Homo sapiens: one gene and its partners. The protein of the gene in region 3 purifies or fractionates together with the protein of the main gene of each other region. This does not show direct contact. Each region holds a gene or a part of one and is shown on either strand. Other genes may lie near its edges.

The links.
Region 1: the proteins of POTEB3 (region 3) and ARHGEF7 purify together in Homo sapiens (affinity purification with mass spectrometry; one large-scale study listed by BioGRID and IntAct). This does not show direct contact.
Region 2: the proteins of POTEB3 (region 3) and TPM2 purify together in Homo sapiens (affinity purification with mass spectrometry; one large-scale study listed by BioGRID and IntAct). This does not show direct contact.
Region 4: the proteins of POTEB3 (region 3) and AP1G1 purify together in Homo sapiens (co-immunoprecipitation; 2 studies listed by BioGRID and IntAct, with this or other methods). This does not show direct contact.

Annotation. Positions count from the first base shown.
Region 1 is NC_000013.11:111,301,940-111,307,985, reverse strand, and holds the end of ARHGEF7 (rho guanine nucleotide exchange factor 7), read right to left. Parts: intron 4,996-6,046; coding exon 4,873-4,995; 3' UTR 2,254-4,872; downstream 1-2,253. UniProt on the Homo sapiens protein: Acts as a RAC1 guanine nucleotide exchange factor (GEF) and can induce membrane ruffling. Functions in cell migration, attachment and cell spreading. Promotes targeting of RAC1 to focal adhesions. May function as a positive regulator of apoptosis.
Region 2 is NC_000009.12:35,683,976-35,689,306, forward strand, and holds part of TPM2 (tropomyosin beta chain), read right to left. Parts: intron 5,297-5,331; coding exon 5,171-5,296; intron 1,806-5,170; coding exon 1,672-1,805; intron 1,577-1,671; coding exon 1,459-1,576; intron 1,365-1,458; coding exon 1,294-1,364; intron 1,165-1,293; coding exon of another isoform or gene 833-1,164; coding exon 757-832; intron 576-756; coding exon 513-575; intron 341-512; coding exon 271-340; intron 1-270. UniProt on the Homo sapiens protein: Binds to actin filaments in muscle and non-muscle cells. Plays a central role, in association with the troponin complex, in the calcium dependent regulation of vertebrate striated muscle contraction.
Region 3 is NC_000015.10:21,425,996-21,432,579, forward strand, and holds part of POTEB3 (POTE ankyrin domain family member B3), read right to left. Parts: intron 5,851-6,584; coding exon 5,744-5,850; intron 4,407-5,743; coding exon 4,269-4,406; intron 2,991-4,268; exon of another isoform or gene 2,884-2,990; intron 1,761-2,883; coding exon 1,690-1,760; intron 254-1,689; exon of another isoform or gene 33-253; intron 1-32.
Region 4 is NC_000016.10:71,797,750-71,804,333, reverse strand, and holds part of AP1G1 (AP-1 complex subunit gamma-1), read left to right. Parts: intron 1-6,584. UniProt on the Homo sapiens protein: Subunit of clathrin-associated adaptor protein complex 1 that plays a role in protein sorting in the late-Golgi/trans-Golgi network (TGN) and/or endosomes.

The DNA of each region.
Region 1 (6,046 bases), on a different chromosome or scaffold from region 3:
AATGAAGAGCATGTTTCGGAGTCAACGGCTTCCATGAGAAAGCATCACAATGAAGAGCATGTTTCGGAGTCAACGGCTTCCATGGGAAAGCATCACAATGAAGAGCATGTTTCGGAGTCAACGGCTTCCATGGGAAAGCATCACAATGAAGAGCATGTTTCGGAGTCAACGGCTTCCATGGGAAAGCATCGCAATGAAGAGCATGTTTCGGAATCAATGGCTTCCATGGGAAAGCATCACAATGAAGAGCATGTTTCGGAATCAATGGCTTCCATGGGAAAGCATCACAATGAAGAGCATGTTTCAGAGTCAACGGCTTCCATGGGAAAGCATCACAATGAAGAGCATGTTTTGGAATCAATGGCTTCCATGGGAAAGCATCACAATGAAGAGCATGTTTTGGAATCAATGGCTTCCATGGGAAAGCATCACAATGAAGACCATGTTTTGGAATCAATGGCTTCCATGGGAAAGCATCACAATGAAGAGCATGTTTCAGAGTCCACTGCTTCCATGGGAAAGCATCACAATGAAGAGCATGTTTCAGAGTCAACAGCTTCCATGGGAAAGCATCACAATGAAGAGCATGTTTTGGAATCAATGGCTTCCGTGGGAAAGCATCACAATGAAGAGCATGTTTTGGAATCAATGGCTTCCATGGGAAAGCATCACAACGAAGAGCATGTTTCGGAGTCAACGGCTTCCATGGGAAAGCATCACAACGAAGAGCATGCTTCCCATGCCATCATGGCCCCATTCCTTCTTTGAGAAACTAGAACTGTACAATTGCCAAGGCTGTCATTTCCAAAACACCTTGTAAAAATATGGCAAATTCTATCAAAGTTAAAAATGCACAAACGTTTCCAGAAGTTAATCATTTAGCTGTATGTGCACAGTTGCACAGCTGTATACATAAGGATATTCAGTAGAGCATTTCTGCAATAGCGACTGCCCCCTCCCAAATATCCACTCATAGGTGACAAACTGCAGGGCACTCAATCAGGGGAATATTTATGCAGTGGTCAAAAATGATGAATGGTTCAAACTACATATACCCATATGGAAAGATAAGGTTCAAAGAGGCAACTTAGGAAAGAATATACTTAATGCAATCTCACTTGCTGGGAAAAAAGTTAAAACACAGACACCACACACTGGCATTTGCTCAGAAGAATGAACAGAAGAACCTAAACGCAGAACAGGAGCTACTTCTGGGGAACAGGGTCAGGGCGCTGGGAGGCAGAATACATGCTTTTTACTTTGTATCCTGGTATACTGTTTCTATTTTCCGTATCAACAGGTATTATTTTAACAATTAAAAACTCTGGTACATGCTAGTTTTTAATTAGGAAAATAATACCTGCTTATGGGAAAAATATAAATAGTTCTGCAAGAAAATGAAGTATACATGGCCCAGTATACCTTTAAAAAGTGTACAGTTAAAAAACGGTATACATGGCTCAGGTACATCCTAGTTTTTAATTACTGGTGAGGTATCAAGTACAAATGCCTACCTACTCCACCAGTAAGATGAACAATTCACATTAGGTGTCTTATGCATCGCACGTTCTTGTCACAATGCAAATCAACAGAAATGGGTTTTTGAACGCCTACTTGTTTTAACCTGAAATGACTAAAGTCCTTGAAAGTGTAGATCCTGACTTCTTTTGAGCTCCTACAATAAGCCAGTGGGCTGGGCACTGCGTGTGGCTACCTGACCTCTGGCTGGCTGAAATGACATGCAGCGGAGCTGTAGACACACCTGAGCCAGGTACACGGACCATGGACAGGAGACCCCGCTTGGTCCTCCCGGCCACCCTTCCGGAAGACACCCTCGTTTGCACCACCGCCACACAGGGACACACACGAGCAATTTCCTTTTGTCTTATGACAGCTCCTAAAAGGGACCCCACAGATATCTTCAAGAAAGTTTCGCTTACTTGATCCCACAAAACGGTGTCCTGAGCGCCTTCCAGAATGCAGGTCATTCCTCCAGGCATGGGTGAGGACCTGGGGGCTGTGCCTACCAGCGTGACCTGTTACTTCAGCTTTTGTTCCTAAGACTTCCAGTGTTCTTTCCTTGTCTTTTAAAAAAAAATCTTCAAATTTTCTCAAACTCTAGACTTTAAAGGAAACATGTTATCTTCAGTATCAAAGACAGACAGAATTTTCAAATCTAAAACAGCCCAAAGAAACTGTAAAGCTAACAAGCACACAGAAAACACATCAAAGAAGACGAAGCGACACATTCTGTGACATAAGAAAAATAATCAGTTTAATAATTACAACAGTGTAGCATCAACATTGTAGTAGTCAACACTAGGACATTGTCTGTGACATTTAAATTAGGAGTTTCTCCACACTTGTCAACAGGCGCCCTGGGTGTCCCAGAGAAGTGAAGAAATGATTGGCATTAAGGAGTCCACACAACCAGGGCAGGCATTCAAGGTCCCAGACGCCCAGCGCATGTGGACAAGCACAGACGCCACTGAGTGTGAAGGAACGAGCTTCTGATGCTACATTCCAACATCGCTGAAAACTGAAAGTGCTTCACATCTACAGGATAAGAAATGGCTTCATCTCCTCATCCATACAAGGTGAGAGCAAAGGAGTAACCCTCGGGCAAATCGTGGCCCCTTTAAACGTTTATATCAAGTTCCCACCCCCTTGGGAGGTCACACGGTGAAACAGACACAGTTATATACAACAGGGCAGGTTTTTAAAAAGAGTTGCTCTCAGACGCATTTTTCCTGCTCCCTAAAAAGCCGAGGAAGATACTGGATCCACAGAAAGAAAAGGCAATGCCGTAACATGAGGCCCTCATGGCCGCACCGTCCAGGGGAAGGGCTGTTAAAAACACAAGTATTCTTGTGAAATACTTCGATCTGAGCATTAAGGCAGGTCTGCAGGAGATCCGTCCTGGGGACTCGGACAGCAACGCTACCGGCTCCGAGAGGACAGTTAATGTCGCCTCCCGGCAGAGGGGCGGAGAGATCAGACAAGAGTTGTTCCTGAGTTAAAACCTGCTACAACAGCAAACTCCAATAAACTCAAGTTGAATGGTTTCCCACTGCAATGTCTTACGCATCACCAAAAAATAACTTGTAAAACTCAAGCTTACCAAAAAAGAAAGTGTTGATCTTTGCTTGTGCCCGCATGAGTGAATGATCTGCTAAGTTGAGGAAGCTGGCAATTCTAGTGAAAAGTCCAGGTGAGGCCAGGTTCTGCAGCATGGGGCAGGTCCACGCTGAGCCCAGGCAGACAACGTGACCAGTCACGGAAGGAAGCCAAAGGGGCTTGCTGGGCACCAGAGACTGTAATTAGCAAGGGCAAGGAAGAACCGTAAACAGCAACACAACACTCTCCCAAGGTGCCCAGCTCAAAGGCATCAGTACACAAAGGATTCAGGTGCAGTTAAAGGGCAATTTGGCCAATAGACAGAAAATCAGAGAGTCAAATCTGATGCGCAATGAGTTGTTCTGAGACCAGTAATCCACGGTGCTGCAATTTGGGTTTTTAAAGATAGAACACTTGTTCTACGGAAAAGTGTATCTCACTTTAAAACCAACCTTTTCACAGGAAAGGAAACCAAAAGCAAAGTCCCTGTGGTCACCCTTATTTATTGCTGAAGCAGAACGAAAACCTGCTCCACGGGCCGGGCTTCCTGCCCAGGACCGCACAGGCTTTCCAGAGCCAGCCTGGGCCCAGCGAGCCGCGGTGAGGACAGGCTTCGTCTCCTCTGCACTGGAACACAGTGGGGGAAACGTTCCCTGCTTATGCCTATGTTACTTAGTGGAACCTAAGGTGTATATTGCTTTATTCTTGCTGAAGGAGGGGATTTTACTTTCGGTGAGCACTGAAGCCTGCTGGCTACGGCCAATGGTGGAGGAGACCTCGGGATGAGGCTGGCCTGATGACAAAACTCCACCCATCAGTATCAGCCTGCAGCATGGCCTCCATCTGTTTTCATCAGCTGCAGTGACTTATAATAAATAATACATTCTATTTACAGGTTCTAGTAAGATCTCTCTTTGAGGGAAGACAAAACAGTGTATTTTGTTGTTACTGAACTAGCCTATACAGAACCGTCTGTGTCCTCCCAAAACGCAGCAAACTCATCTGAGAATCACAGTACTCAGACAGCGGACAAGAGCAAACACCTCTAGGTGGATGCGGCAGTGCCGTATGGGCCTTCCTTGAGGTCAAGACTGAGTCTGTCAGCCAGCAAGTTGCCCTCAGAAACCCGCAGGTCTGGGACTGTAATGCTGCTTTAAGAGAAGACTTCTGAATGGGACTGAAGTGTATCTCTGCAGGTATAAATAAGGTTATTTAGAAATACCGACATGGGGGGTGCTGCCACAGCACGGTGGAGGCCCTGGTGCTGCGGAACGAACCAGGCATCCACCAGGCTTCTGCTTCCGGTGGATGCGGGCATGGGACTTCTTATTCACGTAGCTGGAAAGGACATTCTAGCATGGGGATTAGCCCGGACAGAACCACCACAGGTATGCATTCAAAATGGGATATTTACAAGAAACATGTATATATAATATTTATATATTCAATTCAAAGTCTGGAAAAACAAGACTTTTAGTCAGTCACTGAACTTATTGCAGAATGAGGTAACTGAGATGTTCACAGAGTGGATTGATGTAGCTCAGGTCCTCAGAGTCAATCCCTCCTGTCTGGATTCATCAGTCATGGTTTGATCGTCTCCATTCGCAGAATAAGCTCCAGCTTTTCTATATACAGAGAGCAAGGTGGCGCCCCACCCAGCCCTGCCCTGTGGTCCTGAGTGCACCCCGACTTGGGTCAGGGGTGCCCAGCTTCACCTCAGAACTGGTCTTCAACAGAAAGAACTGAGGACATCCCTTATAGATTGGTCTCATCCCAGGCAGGATCATTCATGTTCTTCAGGACTTTCCTCACCAGCTTCTCCAGGTCTTTGCGGGCTCTCTGTTCTTCCTCTAGAGATTTCTTCATCTTTTTGTTGTCCTGTAAATTAAGCAGACCACAGGGTGTTCACTATCTTTGGCATCGCGTAGGGCTTCCTTTCCCCAAATGTGTATCCTTGAGGAGCTAAGGCCTCGATTCATGAAATCCCACGTGAGCTGCCTATGGGCTCTGAGGTCGTGGGGATCCACGAAGGTCAAACACCTGGACAGGGTGGCAGCGGTGCTCCTGACTGTGCTGCTGTTCCCGGGATGGAAATGGTCCTAATGGCTCTTATTAAGTCCATGAATGAATCTCTATAGAACATACCGTAAGAAAATAGCTGGAAACTGCGGACGAGACAGCTCCTATCCAGCCTTTTTGTCCATTTATAACCACCTTCCAGAGTTACAGAAAGGACTGGAAGTAACAGCCACTGACAGGTGCAGGAGCAAGTGGGCGAGCACCTGCTCTGTGCAGCTGAACCCAGGCATGTCTCGGACGTAGGAGGCATGCACAAACAGATGCCTGCTGCCGGTAGGGGCAAAGCGTGAACATGGAAGCCTGCCAGCCAGGCAAAGGTGTACCTGGAAGACCTGCGGACACTGCTTAGAATGACAGCACATGTCCAGTTCCACACAGCAACCTGCTCTCAGCTCTCTATCCCAGACCACAACTCTTCTCAGGCTGTTCCTCGGCCAAAAGAACACCCCAACCTTCCCTCACCTAGCTGGGCAGAGGACCAAAGCCGCTCGTACTCACATTCCGTGCAATGAACACCCCAACCTTCCCTCGCCTAGCTGGGCAGAGGACCAAAGCTGCTCATACTCACATTCCGTGCAATACCCAGAACACCCTTGGTTAGTCGCCACTTCTGGCTCGCTAACCTGGCTTCGGGAGCCAAGGACCATGCAGTGGCAGAGGCTAATCTCAGGGGCGCCTCGCAGGATTTGTCACCAGACAGAACTTTCGATATTTTAAATTATTCTTCCAACAGAATTTGCGATGTTTTATGACATCAAAATCAGTATTGTTAAGAAAAAAAAAAGAGTTTAAACAAGTCACTTTAGAGACAACCAATTATTTTATCTGCTGGACTTCTCAAAGACATGAC
Region 2 (5,331 bases), on a different chromosome or scaffold from region 3:
CAATCTCTTTGGGGCAGAGTCAAGGAATCTGTTTTTAAAACTCTCCCAGTGATTCTCATGCATGCTGAAGTTTGAGAAGCACTGGAGTTGTTGCGCCGTGGGCAGCTACAATTACTTGAATTGTAGACATGGCCCACAGAGTTGGGGAGTTGGTAGGGTCCTAGGTGGCCCAACCCTAGTTTATTGGTGGCAAATAAAATGGGATGAGAAGGTACAGGACAGACTGATAATCACGGCAGGTGTGGACCTACTTATAAAGGCTTCTTTTACCTTCTAGGTCATCGATGGTTTTCTCCAACTTTGCCACAGACCTCTCGGCAAACTCTGCTCGGGTCTCAGCCTGGGGGTAAAGGCAGGATGGGAGAAATGGCAAAGAATTAGGCCCTCCCACAGACTACTGCCTAAGTCAAGCTTCTTGTCCATCCCAACCCTCAAGTGTCCTGCCACAGGCCGTCTCTGGCAAGGATTAGGGTGGCTTGAGGGGAGACTGGGAACTGGAAGAGGACTCTCACCTCCTTCAGCTTCTCCTCCAACAGTTTGATCTCCTCTTCATATTTATCTTCTTTGGTGGAATACTTTTGGGGACACACACACGCCATCAGTACAGCGCTACCACAGATCCTTCATTTCTCCATTGTACCCCGTAGGCTCCTGGTCATCTTGCCTCCGTTGAACACCCAGCCCCTCCCTGCCTTGGGCCCCTCACCTCCCTCCCCTGTGGGACCCCATCCTCACTGCCCCTCTGCTCCCCTCTACCTTGTCCGCCTGGGCCTCCAGGGATTTCAAGTTGTTGGTAACAATTTTCAGCTCCTCCTCTAGGTCCCCACATTTACTGCAGGGGGTGTGTGGCGGGGGGGGCAGGGTGTGAGGGCACAGCGAAGCCAGACAGTGGAGATGGCACAGCAGGGGACGGGTGGAGGAGAGAAGAGAAGAGCAAAGTTGTGAGAGTGACAGCAGGCAGGGCTCAGAAGCCCCAGGCCCTTCCTGATCCCCAGCAGCTGAGAAAGAGCAGCCTGCGGTGCTGAGACGGAGGGAAGGTGAGCTGAGAGAAGGCGCCATTGCCCAGAAAGGTTCAGAGGGGTCACTACCTCCTCCTCTGAGGCCATCAGGGACTTGAGGGCCTGGTCCATGGTTCGAAGTTCCTCCTCCAGCTGTCTGGCTCGGCTGGGGGCAGCGGGCAGGGGTCAGAGAACAGGGCCTGTCCCTACAGCCCCAAGCCTAGGATGCTACCTTCCCACTGTGTGGAAGGCCCCAGGGCCAATGGGCTCACTTGTCACCCCCGGGTATCTTTACCTCTCGGCCACCTCAGCCCTCTCCTCCGAGCGCTCCAGCTCTCCTTCCAGGATCACCAGCTTCCTGGCCACCTGTGGGGAGTGAGAAAGAGAGGGTAGATCAGTGGAGAAGGACTGGGCATGTTGCAGGCTGGGCAGCGAGCAGGCAGAGGGGCAAGGCTGTCACCTCTTCATATTTGCGGTCTGAATCCTCAGCGATGTGCTTGGCCTCCTTCAGCTGCATCTCCTGCAGTTCCATCTTCTCCTCATCCTTCATGGCCCGGTTTTCGATGACCTTCATTCCTCTGAAAGGCAGGGAGAGGGTGAGCGTAGGGTCAGGACCAGCAGAGACAGGCTCCCTTCTCCCTCCCGGACCATCCTCCCCGAGGCCCCTGACCACCTCTCGCTCTCATCAGCCGCCTTCTCGGCCTCCTCCAGCTTCTGCAGGGCTGTAGCCAGGCGCTCCTGGGCCCGGTCCAGCTCCTCCTCAACCAGCTGAATGCGGCGGTTCAGGGAGGCCACATCTGCCTCAGCCTGTGGGTCAGAGGTCAGGGGTCAAAAAGGCCTTGTTAGCCTTGGATAAGGATCAGAGAGGCTCCAGAGGATGGCGAGATTCTTCTCAGAAAGAACTGAGGCTTCCTGGTTTCTAGACATTCTATGTGATTTTTCCCCAACCAATCATCTTCTGCCCAGACTGTGCTCCAGTAAAAAATGTGCATTCAGGCCGGGCATGGTGGCTCACGCCTGTAATCCCCGCACTCTGGGAGGCCGAGGCGGGTGGATCACCTGAGGTGAGGAGTTTGAGAGCAGCCTGGCCAACATGGTGAAACTCTGTCTCTATTAAAAATAAAAAATTAGCCAGGCATGGTGGCGCATGCCTGTAATCCCAGCTACTTGGGAGGCTGAGGCACAAGAATCACTTGAACCCAGGAGGCGGAGGTTGCAGTGAGCTGAGGTCGTGCCACTGCACTCCAGCCTGGGTAAAAAGAACGAAACTCCATCTCAAAAAAACAAAAAAATACATGCATTCCTTGCTTGACAAGCTCCGCTCCCCTGCTGCAGGGCCTCTCCTGCACTGTGCACAGTTAGTCTCCCAAAGGTCACCTGCACACAAGTCCTCCTGTTCCCTGTGGGAGCACTTCAAGTGCTGGGGCCAGGTCTGATGCAGCTCTGATTCCTACACAGCAAAGCCTGGCCCAGGTAAGGGGATGGGAGGAGAATCAGGCCAACCAGACATCACTGCTGCTAAGAATAGCCCGTCACAGAATCAAGCTCAGTGATACTGGGCATGGTGGTGCATGCCTGTCATCCCAGCTACTCCGAAGGCTAAGGCGGGAGTTCAGCTTGACCCCAGGAGCCCTGCCTGGGAAACATAGCAAGATCCCATCTCAAAAAAAAAAAAAAAAAAAAGTATCAAGTTCAGTGATGTCATCTGTCATCAGCTGTAAGGCAGACTCCCAGCAAGAAGCCCAAGAGGCAGGCCTATAAGGAATACCCATGGCTGTAGCAAGGGGCTCCCTGCCAAGGCCAGCAGAGAGCTGGGGGCAATGCAGGGGCAGTGTGAGGGATGTCTACTCAGCCCCTGGGCTTGCAGTAGGAGGCAAAACCATGGAGGTTTTGGAAAAAATCCATAAAAACTGGTCAAACACTGAGAAAAAGGGCAGAGCAAGGCGAGCGCCAGTAAAGGAAAATGAGAGGAGCAGGGCAGCCACGTGTTAAGAGCATCGGCTCTGAGTCAGATTGTCTTTGAGCCACGGCTCAGCCACTCAACACCTGTGTAACTGTGGGCAACTTATTTAGCCTCTCTAAGCTTCAGTTTCCTCCTTCACAAGTTGGAGTTAACAATAACAGTTCCTCCTTCTTAAGGCTGTTCTGAGATAATCCACTGCTTTTAATACTCAGTTAATCAACAGGACCTTCGGTGAGACTCATAAAACTAAACAGGTTCTCTTACTCCATGCTAGATCCACTGAATTGGGATGTGTAGGGCGGGGGCTTGGGAATCTTCTCTTTTTTTTTTAAAGCCCCCGAGTGATTCTGATGATAAGCCAAGTTTGGGAAATTGTAAAATAACATGCAGAAAGCACTGAGTACATTGCCTGCACAGGGTCCACATTCCATAAATATTAGGTTATCCCCTTTCTCTGTCAAAAACAAGGACACAGAGACCCTGAGATTTCAGAGTGGAAAGGAGAGAGGACCTGTGTAGGGAAAGGAGGTGGGGGGAGGGGCTGGGGGCAGCACTTGGACACAGCATAGGAAGCAGGTCCTTGGTCGGACTGTAGGGCAGGAGAAACAGCACCATATATAGAGAGTAGATGGTAGCTTGTCTTCCAGGTGCTGAAGGCACCTGGAGCTTGGCCACCTAGAGTGACAAGAGCCCATCATGGGCACAGGGCCGGATGACAGTGTGGAAGCATTCTGGGGACAGCATTGGGGGTTGGGAAGAATCACTGTGGGGGACATTGGAGTACTACCCTAGAGAGAGGTGAGACTGTAAAAGAAAAACTCTGCATGATGGTGGGGTGACAAAAGACTCTGGAAAGTTTGGGAAGTCCTGGGGTCCTCATCATGGGACTGATATGTGCCATTTCCTGCCTCTCAAGCTCTTCCCAGTTACGGGGGCGGCTCTCTAACCACAGGACAGGCACTACTGTCCCCATTAGAAAAATGGGAAGCAAGAGAGAGGGAGAAACTGAGGCACCATGTAAGTTGAGTGCTGTGTTCAAGGTCACCAGGAAGCTTGGGCAGTCTTTCCTATCTGCTCCTGGTGCTGCGGCTCTGCCTCCCCAGCTCTGTCCCTGTCCCCCCTGCCCCTCCAGCCCCCACCAGCAACTTGGGTTTCCAATCTTGCCTCCAGCTGCACTGGGCCTTGGTTATTTATAGAGTGTCAGATGCCCAGGGTTGTCTGTGCTAGCAGCTGCAGGTCAGCTCCCTCCCAAGTGCCAGGACTGGTGGAGAACCAAAACTGGAGGCTGGAGGTCACAGAAGCCCAACCCCTGGGGGGCTGGGAACATGAGCAGTCGACACAAACAGCTATGTCATCTCTGATGTTCAGACCATGCTTTATGCTAATCTAACCATAGGTTCATCTTAAAACAATCCTGGGTGGAAGGAAGATGGGGAAACTGAGGCAGAGAATGGGGAAACTACCACCACACCAAAGCCATATGGCCATTCTCCTACCTTAAGCTGGGGGTTGGGAATGGCAGGAAGTGAAGTCTGGTTGGGGTTGTGGGGTGGGCAGAGAAATCTCAGGGTAAATGACCTGCCAAGGTAGCTGCTTTGGCATTTGTGGCCCTGTCCCTCTGCCCTGTGGCCTGGCATGGTCTCCAGGCTGACAGCTTAATGAGGGTAAATGAGGAGCCATTAGAACCTGAGCTGGGGCCCCAGGGCACAGCAGGGCTGCTGAAGCCAGAGGTCAAGGCCAGGGAATTTCTAATGGCCCCTTAGGGTTGTAACTCAAGTGGGGTCTCATCTCTGGATCCCTCTCCCTCCTCCTGCAGGCTAGTACCTCACATCCACATCCCCCCATCCCCAAACGGCTGCAGTCTCCTCTCCAATTTCAGCTGGAGGATTAATTGAGGTAGATGGTAAATTCTTATACCTTCCACCCCCACAATGACTCATTGCTTGATCACTGTACATTCTAAAAGCTGGAACCAAACAGAATTACAGGGCTAAGTCCTCTGGGGGAAGTGGTAGGTGGTTTTGATTTATCCACTGTCTTGGATTACTTGTGTAAGTTTACCCTAGCCCTGGTTACTGAGATGAAACCATTTCTCTCCTGGCGCTGGGGACATAAGGGGATAAGGTGCCCCAATCCTCTTATTCCCATACCCGGGGGGCCCCTTCCCAGAGCCCTAACTCCTCCCATTGTCCCCCAAGTCCACACTCACATCAGTGGCCTTCTTCTCGGCCTGCTCCAGTTTCTCCTGGGCCTCCTTCACGGATTCAGAATACTTTTCCACCTCATCCTCTGTCCCCTTCAGCTTCTTCTGGAGGGCCTGCTGCTCCTCCTCCAGCTGGGACAGAGGGGACTTGGTCAGCCAGGCTGGGA
Region 3 (6,584 bases):
TATAGTATTAAAAAAGTCTATCATAAACTTGCCTTAGCTAAGTATTCACCTCATTCCCAAACTCTGGTGTCTCACACTTTTGGTACTAGCAAAAGTGAACTGCTCAGAAACCCTGCAAAGTTCACTCGGCATCCTGTCTTTTGCAGTTGTTGCTCTTCCTGCCAAACAGGCAATCTCATCAGATGTTCTTCTGGCAAACACACAAACTTGTTGCATGTTCCTTCTGCCAAAAATTATTCTTCTGCTTCTTTACCTAGAAAAATTCTTCTCACTCTGCATGCTTACTTTGAATCATACCTACTTTTTTTCAAAACTTTCATTCCTCATCACGTATGTCTGGCACATAATTAATACATAATAAATCATAATTATAAGCTTCCAGTTGGCATCTAGCACACAGTAAGCACTGAATAAAGTAGTAAAATAATAAAAGTGACAATGATAATAACAAGCTCCTGTCTGTATTTTTAATTGTGTGTGTTCTGTAGCATTAGAAAAATGATTAGTATCTAAAAGACATTTGATAGTTATTTGTTAAGTGGACAAGTGAAAACATAGAAATGTTTTCTTTGTAAATTCTGTTGAAAAAGCACAGAAATGAAATAGAGACACCTCTATTATGAGCACCTTAAAGATCAAAACTACATCTATTCCATCTTTGTCTTCTGCAACTTATAAAACCTAACTTACAGAAGCTTTTTGATAAATAGATGGCTAAATTAAAGGTGTCCTCATCCAGTTTGGATTATACAATGTATTAGGTGTCCACAACCAGGTGGCATACTAGTATTTTTGTTAATGTGAAGCATTTTTCTACTTTTATTATAATCTGCTGAGCCTAGAGTTGGGCAATTTGTATATTTATTATGACAATCTTTTGGTAAATGGTAGCAGAGCATCTTGTTCTAACAAAATTACTGTTATCAAGACAATTGACCAGCAGGTAGAGAACACATCTTGTTCCAACAAAGTAAATGTATCTCTTTCCAACTTCAAATGAGGAGGAATGAAGTCAGTAAGAGTGAGACCTTGTTGGGACAAGGATATGTAACATGACTTGTGCTTTGGCGTTCTTTTGTGATCAAAAATTCCTTACTTTTATTTTTTTATCTACGGTAGGACCACCCAGAGCAGGGGTCCACAACTCCCAGGTCACAGACTGGTACCAGTCCATGGACTATTATGAACCACACCACACAGGAGGAGGTGAGCAGCAGGCAAACCAGGGAAGCTTCACCTGTACTTACAGCCACACCCCATGGCTCATATTACCGCCTGAACTCTGCCTCCAGTCAGATCAGTGATAGCACTAGATACTCATTGGAGCATGAACCCTATTGTGAACTGCTCATCTGAGGGATCTAGGTTGTGTGCTTCATATGAGAAACTAATGCCTGATGATCTGTCACTGTCTCACTTTGCCCCCAGATGAGACCATCTAGTTGCAGAAAAATAAGCTCAGAGTTTCCACGGATTCTACATTATGGTAAGTTGTATAATTATTTCATTATATATTACAATGTAATAATAATATAAAGTAGCACAATAAATGAAACATGGCTGAATAATCCTGAAACCATCCCCACCTTCCCCCAGCCCATGGAAAGACTGTCTTCCACAAAACCGGTCCCTGATGCCAAAAACATTGTGGACAACTGACCTAAAGTAATTCATTATCACAAGTCTTACCTGGATTGCTGTTTTCAGAAGAGATTTTTAGCATCTGTTTTTCTTTATAGTCAGAAAGTAATTCACAAATTCTATGTATAAAAATGTAATAAACCAAATTACTATTTTAATACTGATATAAAAAATACTTACCAAATGTAAGATTCTTAGAGTATTTCAAACAATATCATAATATCAGAATTTAACAGTATTATCCCATACACTTATGAGTACATTCTACAAACTTTTCTTTAAGCTTCTAATTAAAGAAGAAAAAAAATTAGGTGAAATGCTCATAAATCAAGGGCACTGTGACCCAGTAAATCAGCAGGCATTAGCATGACATAATAGAAAGTGTCCCAACTCTGCATAAGTCCTAGCTCCATAATGAACAGCTATTTGTTCTTGGACAACTTTCTTCTCTTAGGCTCAATGTCTTCTTCTACAAAGTGAGGACTTTGCTGCCTTATTTCACTAGGTTGTTATAAAGATTTAACAAGGTAACATTTTTTAAATGCTCAGAGAAATAGTAAAGCAATGGAATAATCTGTTCCTAAACTTTATGACTAAAATTATCTTGGAATCCCAAATAAAACCCCATGTGTATTTTGTTCATAGGTTCTAATATGCAAATGCTGTAGTTTTCAGGAAATGTTATTAAGTCCTAATTTTGCTTCTTAGTTGTCCTACTCCTTATGGCTTATCATTCAGGGCATCTCAACTGTGTCATAGTTTGTAACTAAATTTTTTCATAAATCTCTCATTAAAGTAGATAATGTGATTGTCCACTATTACGGAGTTGACCAATTTGTTGTGCTAAGGGCAGAAAAACCAATGGATGTTAAGACCTGGCTTGGAGCAATGATCCTTCTCTACAGACTCAAACTCTGAGCCAGCAGATGTTTGTTAGGATAATGCTTTATATTGATGTTCAATTCCAGCTGACATGGGAGACCAAAACTCTACTTTTATTTTTTTTCAGTTTTCATGAAGAAGCTGCAAATTGACATTCTCTAATTTTTGACGTACATACTTATAATATATTTTGCACTGAACACATTATTCAGCTCTAAATCATCTCACAGACCATCTTCCATGACTATTTTTGCAGCACAAATCACATTTCGATATTTTGGTGGCACCCATTTTGCTTTGATTCACACTGTTTCCTTAGAGCTAGCCAGCAAATAGTGAAATGATCTTCCAGTGACTGCACAAAATATGGAATGCTTCAAAGAGTTGTGCTGCCTCCTTATGCAGAAGCCGTGCTAACTTTCTCTGTATTGTTCCAATTTTAGGATATGTGCCGCCAAAGCAGGCACAAAGCCCTACTTTTACACATGATTTGTGATGAGTCATGGGCAAGGCTTGGCTCTTGTCCATGACTCATCACTACTTACTTAACCCACGTGAGATTCTGAGAATTCTCTTCAATGGCTTCCTGTGAGGTACAATTTGAAAATATTTTAAAATCTTGAGCTAGAGATGGAAGTAGCTTGGACGATTTTCATTATCATGTAAATCAGATCACTCAAGGGGCCAACCACAGCTGGGAGCCACTGCTTGGGGAAGGCTCATATGGGACTTTCTACTGCCTAAGGTTCTACACAGGATATAAAGGTGCCTCACTGTGTAGATCTGGTAGCAAAGAAGAAGAAACAAACACTGATCTCTTTCTGCCACATTATTTGAACCCCTCTGACCCTTTATAACAAGCCCACCTCATATCTGCTAGAGAAAAGACCAACAACGGCCTGAAAGGATCTCTTACCATGAAGGTCTCAGCTAATTCTTAGCTAAGATGTGGGTTCCACATTAGGTTCTGAATACAGGAGGAAGGGTCAATTTGCTCACTTTGTGTGCGGATAAAGTCAGGATGCCCAGCGGCCAGAGCAGGGTGCTGGTGCTTTGGGAACAATGGCTGAGCATATAAGCATAGGTAAGGGAACTAAAAAATGTTGTAACTTCAAAGTCACTGTGTGAATCCCCATGAAGACTTGAGGGATCTGAATCAGTAAGGGCACCTTGGTGTCAAAGGTCAACAATTACCAGGCAGCAGAAGCAGTTTGAGTGGCAACAATGCAGCAACAGAAACAATGGAAACAACAGAATGATTGGAATGTCCTTTTTTCTCTCCTCCTTCTGACTTGATAAAAGGGACTGTCTTCCTTGGATTTAGTGAACCCCTTTGGTTCTTGAAAAATTCAAGGAGTATGTAGGAGACAGTCCCCAGAAGACAGTACAAGGCTTTCTGCTAAACTGGACATTTCAAGACCCAAATAACTAATCAGAAAAATCAAAGATGTGATACTCTTTTTTATGCCATGCATAGGTGTTATACTTGGATGAAATGAACAATATTGGGATCTCTAAGGATAAAGGTCTTAAAAGTCCTGAGGTAAAGAATCCTGCACCCATTGGTACTTCTAACTTGTCTTGCTTTTTGTCTGATTTCTGGCTGATGCAGGGGACTAACTCACTGCCACTCTAAAACTACCTGAACCAAACTATGACATCTCACCTGATATGTAAGATGCAATTGTTATAATTATTTTAAACCTCAATTTAGCATTAACTAGCCTTTTCATGTAAACACTTACACATGATGATGACTAGAAACAGCATACTCTCTGGCCGTCTGTCCAGATAGATCTTGAGAAGATACATCAACATTTTGCTCAAGTAGAAGATTGACTATACTTGCTGATCCACAACATACAGCAAGTATGAGGGCAGTTCTAAAATTACAGAGATAATTTCTCCTTTAGAAACTGTAATAAAGTTATTTTAAAAGCTAATTTGATATACTTTACCAATTTGACATCTTGCCTGTCCATGCAGAATCAAACATTTACATGCGCTAAAAGACATAAGCATCTTGGGTGCTCAAGAGTTCATCTTTGTAAAATACCACCAAGGTTAAAAGGAAGGGACAAAAAGGAAACCTCTTATCTCAGTGGGGTATTGCATAGCAGAAGCTACTAATTTAAAGTCCTTTGATGGGCAAGAAACAATGCTAGGGCCACTTATCTGAAGTGGACAAAGATTTAAGTGAAGATTTTGTCACAGCTTCCCTAGACTGATATGCTGTGATAGAAAATTAGCTAGGGGCTAAGATAAATAAGAGCTCTCTGCATGCTGAAAGCAGTAATATTAATAATAATGGTAAGAATAGTAGTCACAGGAGTTTCAGTTAATGATGCCAATAAGCATGTGCTACGCACTGAATTAAATGCCACATGTATCTTTCTTGCTTATGCACAGCCAACTTTGAAGGATATATTCTCCTACTTTTCACATATGACAACATATTGGGTGGTAAATCACGTTCCCAATGTCACACACGTAGCAAGTAAGAAAGTTAGGAATTAAACCCAGTCTTGTGTGAATCCAAAGCGTAGCTCTTTTCTCTTTGTCACCCACCTACAGCTTGCCTTCATTAAAGGAAAAGTGTATCCACTTAAAACTATCTTCACTCCCTCTCTCCATACCAACTAAAAATAAAAACATCAAAATACACTGGAAATAAAAAAGGAAAAAAGCTGTTGAACCCACAGTATGTGGGAATAGCAATTAATTGTCATGTAGGGATAAGCTAACATTAATATTCTTCAAAGAAAGCAACTTAAAGCAGAGTCATTGAAAAGACAAAAGGATTTTCAACTCCTATTTATGTTTAATACAGCATATTTAGTGGAAAAGCATATAAGATACAGAGGTTAAAACCTACTAGAAAGGGTTAAAAAGTTCAATACTGAGTCATAAAGTAAACTGAAAGTTAAAGTTCAAACTTCATAAAATTAATATGAAATCCCTTTAGCTAACATAAGATCATGTAACCAAAAACATCATACAACAAATAACATCAGTCAATATAATAAGAGAAGATGAATCCTACTAAAACAGTTCTTTATGTTGCCCAGTCCAAATAATTGCTTTTCTACTTAACTGATTTGTGTTGATACTGATCACTATGTCCCAATAAGTATAATTTGATCTTATTAATTTATTATTTATGACTTGAGTGACTGCTATCAATCTAGAACAACACACAGATTAAAAGAAATAACCATACCTTCCATATCTATCAAGTGCATTTAAATTAGCTTTTTTCTTGATTAAAAATTTCACCACTTGCTGTTTTTGTTCATGTACGCCAAGCAAAAGTGGTGTGAGGCCACACTGTAAAACAATATAAAACAAAAACAATATGTAATTCAAAAAATTATGTATCTCTCAACTGAACTGGAAGCTTATGGACTTACACTCACAGAAAGTAAATAAAATTTGGTCGCTTCCTTCTCACTCTTCTGTACTTTCCCACATGCCACTCCTTCCCTTGGAAACATCCCTTCTCTGCCTCACCACATTAAATCTGATCATCTCAAAAACTCACTTTAAACATTTACTGTTTCCAAGACTCTTTGTTTCTAAATGAGCATTTGGCATGGCACTTTTGGATGATTTTTTTTTTCATTTAAACAAAAAGCTTCTTGAGGGCAGGGGCTGTATCTTTTATCTCTATTATTATCCAATCCTAAGACAAAATTGTTGTGTATAAAGCAAGAATTTGAATGTAAAATATTTCTTTAGTTTCACATGTTTTACCAAAGTTCAAGCTCCAACATGCAATAAATATTGCTATTAATACTCACACTGCCCATTTCAAGAATTTTTTCCAACATTTATTCATTTAAAATCTATTTGTATTTAATTTTTCCAGATTGTTAACTAGATAGATAATCAGTTCATAGGATTACTGAAACTAAGAGATTTCCTATCTGTATTCTTAATAACTCCATGGTTTTTAGTGTTTAAACCTGCCATCCTGATTAAGCCAAAGCTCTACAAACTTAAGAGACATACTGGATAGCCCACAATATAGCTTCAATTGACAAAAAAGGTTTAGAATTTGC
Region 4 (6,584 bases), on a different chromosome or scaffold from region 3:
TGGCTCATGCCTGTAATCCCAGCACTTTGGGAGGCCGAGGCGGGTGGATCACGAGGTCAGGAGATCGAGACCATCCTGGCCAACATGGTTAAACCCCATCTCTACAAAAAAATAGAAAAATTAGCTGGGCATGATGGTGCGCGCCTGTAGTCCCAGCTACTCGGGAGACTGAGGCAGGAGAATCACTTGAACCTGGGAGGTGGAGGTTGTGGTGAGCTGAGATCACGCCACTGCACTCCAGCCTGGGGACAGAGCGAGACTCTTGTCTCCAAAAAAAAAATAAATAAATAAAATATGTTTATCAAAATGTAGTAGCATTTTTACAGTTGCCTTTTTGTATAGAAAATTTTATTTCAATGAGGTCAAGAAATAGAAAAGGGAAAAGAGGTGTCTTTTTTTTTTTTTTTTTTGAGACGGAGTCCTCCTCTGTTGCCCAGGCTGGAGTGCATCGGAGCCATCTCTGCTTACTGCAACCTCCGCCCCCTGGTTCAAGCAATTCTTCTGCCTCAGCCTCCCGAGTAGCTGGGACTACAGGTGTGCGCCACCATGCCTAGCTAATTTTTGTATTTTTAGTAGAGACAGGGCTTCACCCTGTTGACCAGGCTGATCTTGAATTCCTGGGCTCAAGTGATCCACCAGCCTTGGCCTCCCAAAGTGCTGGGATTACAGGCATGAATGAGGTGTCATTTTTACTTTGAAGATACGTGTTAAGTTTTTTTCTTCACTGACCTAGTAACACAATACACTTAATATGGCATGAGTTTTGGTTGCTGGAAAAACTGGTTAAAGTTTGAAGGGTCCAGAAGTGGGAGAAAAAAAACTCACTTGCCAAATGTGTTGAGTCAGCATTAACTAACACTTTAGCATAAAAGGGCAAGGTTTAGGATGAGATGATTGAAATGAGAAATGCTTTTTTTCACTAGGTACTTGGAAATTTTACTTTAAAAAAAAGCCTACTCAGACCATTGGAGAGATTTAATTAGTAAATCATAAATGTTGGCAACAAATTAAGTAGGTTTAGAAGGAAGAAGTCATTTTTTTAAAAGATGAGGAAAAAATACATGTGACTTTTGTAATTTATAAATAAAAACATCTTATTATTTATTTATTTATTCTTTTTGAGACAGAGTCTCACTCTGTCACCCAGGCTGGAGTGCAGTGGTGCCATCTCAGCTTACTACAGCCTCTACCTCCTGGGTTCCCGCGATTCTTGTGCTCAGCCTCCCGAGTAGCTGGGACTGCAGGCGTGCACCACTGTACCTGGCTACTTTTTGTATTTTTAGTGGAGACGGGGTTTTGTCACGTTGGCCAGGCTGGTCTCGAAATCCTGACCTCAGGTGATTCACCTGCTTCAGCCTCCCAAAGTGCTGGGATTATAGGTGTGAGCCACCGAGCCTGGCTAAAATATTTTAAATCTTTCAAAGATATGTAAAGATGTTACGTGTTTTCTCAACCTAAAAATAAACTTCGCTGGCCAGACCTGGTGGCTCATGTCTGTAATCCCAGTACTTTGGGAAGCCAAGTCAGAAGGATCACTTGAGGACAGGAGTTTGAAACCAGCCTGGGAAACACAGTGGGACTCTGGCTGTACGAATTTTTTTTTTGAGACAGAGTCTTGCTCTGTCACCCAGGCTGGAGTGCAGTGGTGCGATCTCGGCTCACCTCAACCTCCGCCTCCTGGGTTCAAGCGATTCTTCTGCCTCAGCCTCCCAAGTAGCTAGAATTACAGGCGCCCGCCACCATGCCCAGTTAATTTTTGTACTTTTAGTAGAGATGGGGTTTCACCATGTTGGACAGGCTGGTCTTGACCTCCTGACCTCAGGTGATCCACCCACCTCGGCCTCCCAAAGTGCCGGGATTACAGGCATGAGCTACCGCGCCTGGCCCAAAATTTTTTAAAGTAGCTGGGTTGTGGTGTCTTTGCCAGTAGCCTTAGCTGCCTGGGAGCCTGAGGCAGGAAGATCACTTGAACCCAGGAGTTCAAGGCTGCAGTGAGCTAAGACTGTGCCACTGCACTCCAGCCTGGGTGACAGAGATAGACTGTCTCAAAAAAAAGAGGTAAGTAAAAAACGCTTCTTTTGCTTCCTTTTAAGACTGAACACTTTTTCAGTTGTTTAGTTTTGAGGTTTAGTTAAATAGGTTCACTAACTTGAGCTGTAAAAACACTAATGGAACTCCTTTTACTTTGAGTTGTACAACTGTATAATCATTTATATAAGTTAGCTCTTTCAACCAAATACACATTGAGTATCTCTTATCTGAAATGCTTGAGACCAGAAATGTTTCATATTTTGGATTTTTTCAGATTTTGGAATATTTGCGTTACACCACTTGTACATCCCTAATCCTAAAATCCAAAATCTGAAACACTTGCAGAGCATTTTTTTCTTTTCTTTTTTTTTTTTTTTTTTGGTTACGGAGTCTCGCCCTGTCGCCCAGGCTGGAGTGCAGTGGCGCAATCTCGGCTCACTGCAAGCTCCGCCTCCCGGGTTCATGCCATTCTCCTGCCTCAGTCTCCAGAGTAGCTGGGACTGCAGGCGCCCGCCACCACGCCTGGCTAATTTTTTGTATTTTCAGTAGAGACGGGCTTTCACCATGTTAGCCAGGATGGTCGTGATCTCCTGACCTTGTGATCTGCCCGCCTCAGCCTCCCCTGCTGGGATAACAGGCGTGACCCACCGCGCCCGGCCTTGAAGAGCATTTCTTCAAGCATCATGTCAACAATCAAAAAATGTCAGGTTTTGGAGAATTTCAGATTTTGGATTAGGGATGTTTACCCTATAGTGTTTACCCTGTAGTGTTACATCATCTGTTCTATGACAGTCTTAATTTTAACCCCAAATTTTAACAGATTATGAATGAATTTACGCTTCAATATTTCTCTCAATGCTTAGTTAAGTACTGTACATACTCACGTAAGTGTACATAGGAATTTTTTGTTTTTACTAAAGAGAGATCATATTATTTATATTACTCTATGACACGCTTTTTTTTTTTTTTAACATGTCATGGTCAGTAAATATAATTCTTTTTTTTTGTTTGTTTGTTTTTTTTGAGATGGAGTCTTACCCTGTCACCCAGGTGGTGGGAATCTCCGCCTCCTGGGTTCAGTGATTCTCCTGCCTCAGACTTCAGAGTAGCTGGGATTATAGGCACCTGCCACCACACCCAGATAATTTTTGTATTTTTAGTAGAGATGAGGTTTCGCCATGTTGGCCTGGCTGGTATCAAACTCCTGACCTTAAGTGATCTGCCTGCCTTGGCCTCCCAAAGTGCTGGGATTACAGGCATGAGCCACCGCGCCCAGCCAATATAATTCATTTTTGTTTTGTTTTTTTGAGACGGAGTTTTGCTTTTGCTGCCCAGGCTGGAGTGCAATGGCGTGATCTCAGCTCACCGCAACCTCCGCCTCCCAGGTTCAAGTGATTCTCCTGCCTCAGCCTCCCGAGTAGTTGGGATTACAGACATGTGCCACCATGCCCCGCTAAGTTTGTATTTTTAGTAGAGATGGGGTTTCTTTCTTTTTTTTTTTTGAGACGGAGTCTCGCTGTGTTGCCCAGGCTGGAGTGCAGTGGCGCGATCCCAGCTCACTGCAAGTTCTGCCTCCCAGGTTCACGCCATTCTCCTGCGTCAGCCTCCCGAGTAGCTGGGACTACAGGCACCCACCACCACGCCTGGCTAATGTTCTGTATTTTTAGTAGAGATGGGGTTTCACCATGTTAGCCAGGATGGTCTCCATCTCCTGACCTCGTGATCTGCCCACCTTGGCCTCCCAAAGTGCTAGGATTAAAGGCGTGAGCCCCCGCACCCGACCCGAGACGGGGGGGTTTCTCCATGTTGGTCAGGCTGGTTTTGAACTCCCGACCTCACATGATCCTCCCACCTTGGCCTCCCAAAGTGCTAGGATTACAGGTGTGAGCCACCGTGCCTGGCCAATATAATTCTTTTTTTTTTTTTTTTTGAGATGGGGAGTCTTGCTCTATCACCCAGGCTAGAGTGCAGTGGTGCGATCTCGGCTCACTGCAAGCTCCACCTCCTGGGTTCACGCCATTCTCCTGCCTCAGCCTCCCGAGTAGCTGGGACTACAGGCGCCCACCACCACACCCGGCTAATTTTTTTGTATTTTTTTTTTTAGTAGAGACAGAGTTTCACCATGTTAACCAGGATGGTCTTGATCTCCTGACCTCGTGATCCACCTGCCTCGGCCTCCCAAAGTGCTGGGATTACAGGCGTGAGCCACCGTGCCCGGCAATATAATTCTTTATTATTATTTTTTTAAAAGATGACATTTTGCTATGTTGCTCAGGCTGATCTCGAACTCCTGGGCTTGAGCAATCTGCCTGCATCGGCCTCCCAAAGTGCTGGGGTTACAGGCGTGAGCCACCGCACCCAGCCAATATAATTTTTTATTATTATTATTATTATTATTATTTTTAAGATGGAACCTCGCTCTGTCACGAAGGCTGGAGTGCAGTGGCGCAGTCTCGGCTCACTGCATGCTCTGCTTCCTGGGTTCACGCCATTCTCCTGCATCAGCCTCCCGAGTAGCTGGGACTGCAGGCACCTGTCACCACACCCCGCTAATTTTCTGTATTTTTAGTAGAATTGGGTTTCACCATGTTAGCCAGGATGGTCTTGATCTCCTGACTTCATGATCCGCCTACCTTGGCCTCCCAAAGTGCTGGGATTACAGGTGTGAGCCACCGCTCCCAGCCTATTAGTTTTTTAATAAGAGATGAGATATAGCTGTATTGCTCAGGCTGGTCTCAAACTCCTGGACTTGAGCAGTCTGCCTCCTGTGGCCTCCCAAAGTGCTGAGATTACAGGTGTGAGCCACTGCACTCAGCCCACAGTAAATATAATTCTATCTTGTTCCTTTAAACAGTCCTATTGTGTCTTATAGCGTGGATGTACCATAATTTATTATTTTCCTGTGGACATTTAGATCATTTCTAGATTTTTGCCACTTAACAAAGTGCTACAATAAATATCCTTGTACATGCCGCCTTATATGCTGATGCTTTTATTTCTGTAGTCTCCAAAGGGGGAATTCTGGGTTAACAGAGAAATATATTTTAAATATTATTATTGCTAGATTACTCTCTAAATAGGTTATCATAATTTTCATCCCAAATAGCAGTAACTTCTCCATATCATGAAACCACTGGGTATAAATACATAGTTTAATTTTTACTAGTCTGCTAGATGATAAATGGGTCATGCAGTTTGTCTTAATTTTAACTTCCCTGTTACTGGGGCTAGCCTTATTTGATACGTATAATAGCCATTGGATTTCCTTTACCGAGAATTGTCTGCTCATGTCCTTGCTTCATTTTTCTTTCTCTTTTTTTTTCCTCCTGTAGGAGCGCTTATGGAATGTTAATTCTTTGTTATATGGCACGTGTATTTTTCTTGTCTTTCATTTATCCTTTTTTTTTTTCCTGGGAGACAGAGTCTCACCCTTGTCGCCCAGGCTAGAGTGCAGTGGTGTGATCTCGGCTCACTGCAGCCTCTGCCTCCTGGGTTCAAGCAATTCTCCTGCCTCAGCTTCCTGGGTAGCTGGGATTACAGGTGCCCGCCACCATGCCCGGCTAATTTTTGTACTTTTAGTAGAGACAGAGATTCGCCATGTTGGCCAGGCTGGTCTCAAACTCCTGACCTCAGGTGATCTGCCTGCCTCTGCCTTCCAAAGTGCTGGGATTACAGGCGTGAGCCACCGCACCACGCCCGGCCTCATTTATCTTTTAATCTTATTTATGTCACAGACATTTTCAGGTAATTATATATATCCCTCTTTTCCTCTTTGGTTTCTGAAACTGTCTTAGAATCCATTCCAGCTGGGTGCAGTGGCTCATGCCTGTAATCCCAGCACTTTGGGAGGCCGAGGCTGGCGGATCACGAGGTCAGGAGACTGAGATCATCCTAGCTAACAAGGTGAAACCTTGTCTCTACTAAAAATACAAAAAAATTAGCTGAGCGTGGTGGCACGCGCCTATAGTCCTGGCTACTCGGTAGGGTAAGGCAGGAGAATTGCTTGAATCTGGGAGGCAGTGTAGAGACACAGTCTCACTGTATTGCCCAGGCTGGTTTCTAACTCATGGCCTCAAGTGATCCTCCCACCTTGGCCTCTAAAGTGTTGGGATTACTGGCGTGAGCCACCGCACCCAGCCTTAACAGTTTTTGATGATAATTTTTCCTTGCTGTAGTGTGTGTCTGTTTGTTCAAGTTTATTTTAGGTCTTTCAACAAATATTTTATAGATTTCGTAGTTTTTTTCGTATAGTTCCTATACCTTTCTTACTAAATTTATTCCTACGTATTTTATTTTGACACTATTGTCAATGGGACTGTTTACCCTCCATTTCTAACTAGTTAATATCAGATACATTAATTAAAAGTAAATATTATACCATCTTTAATTTTCTTTGGACAACTCCCCCACTCTCCTTGTATATCCAGAATTAATAGAACTTGGATTCATGAAGAATATGCTAGGGAAAATTTGTCATCTTAGTATTAAGTAACTTTTTTTTTTTGAGACTGCGTCTTGCTCTGTCGCCCAGGCTGGAGTGCAGTGGCACGATC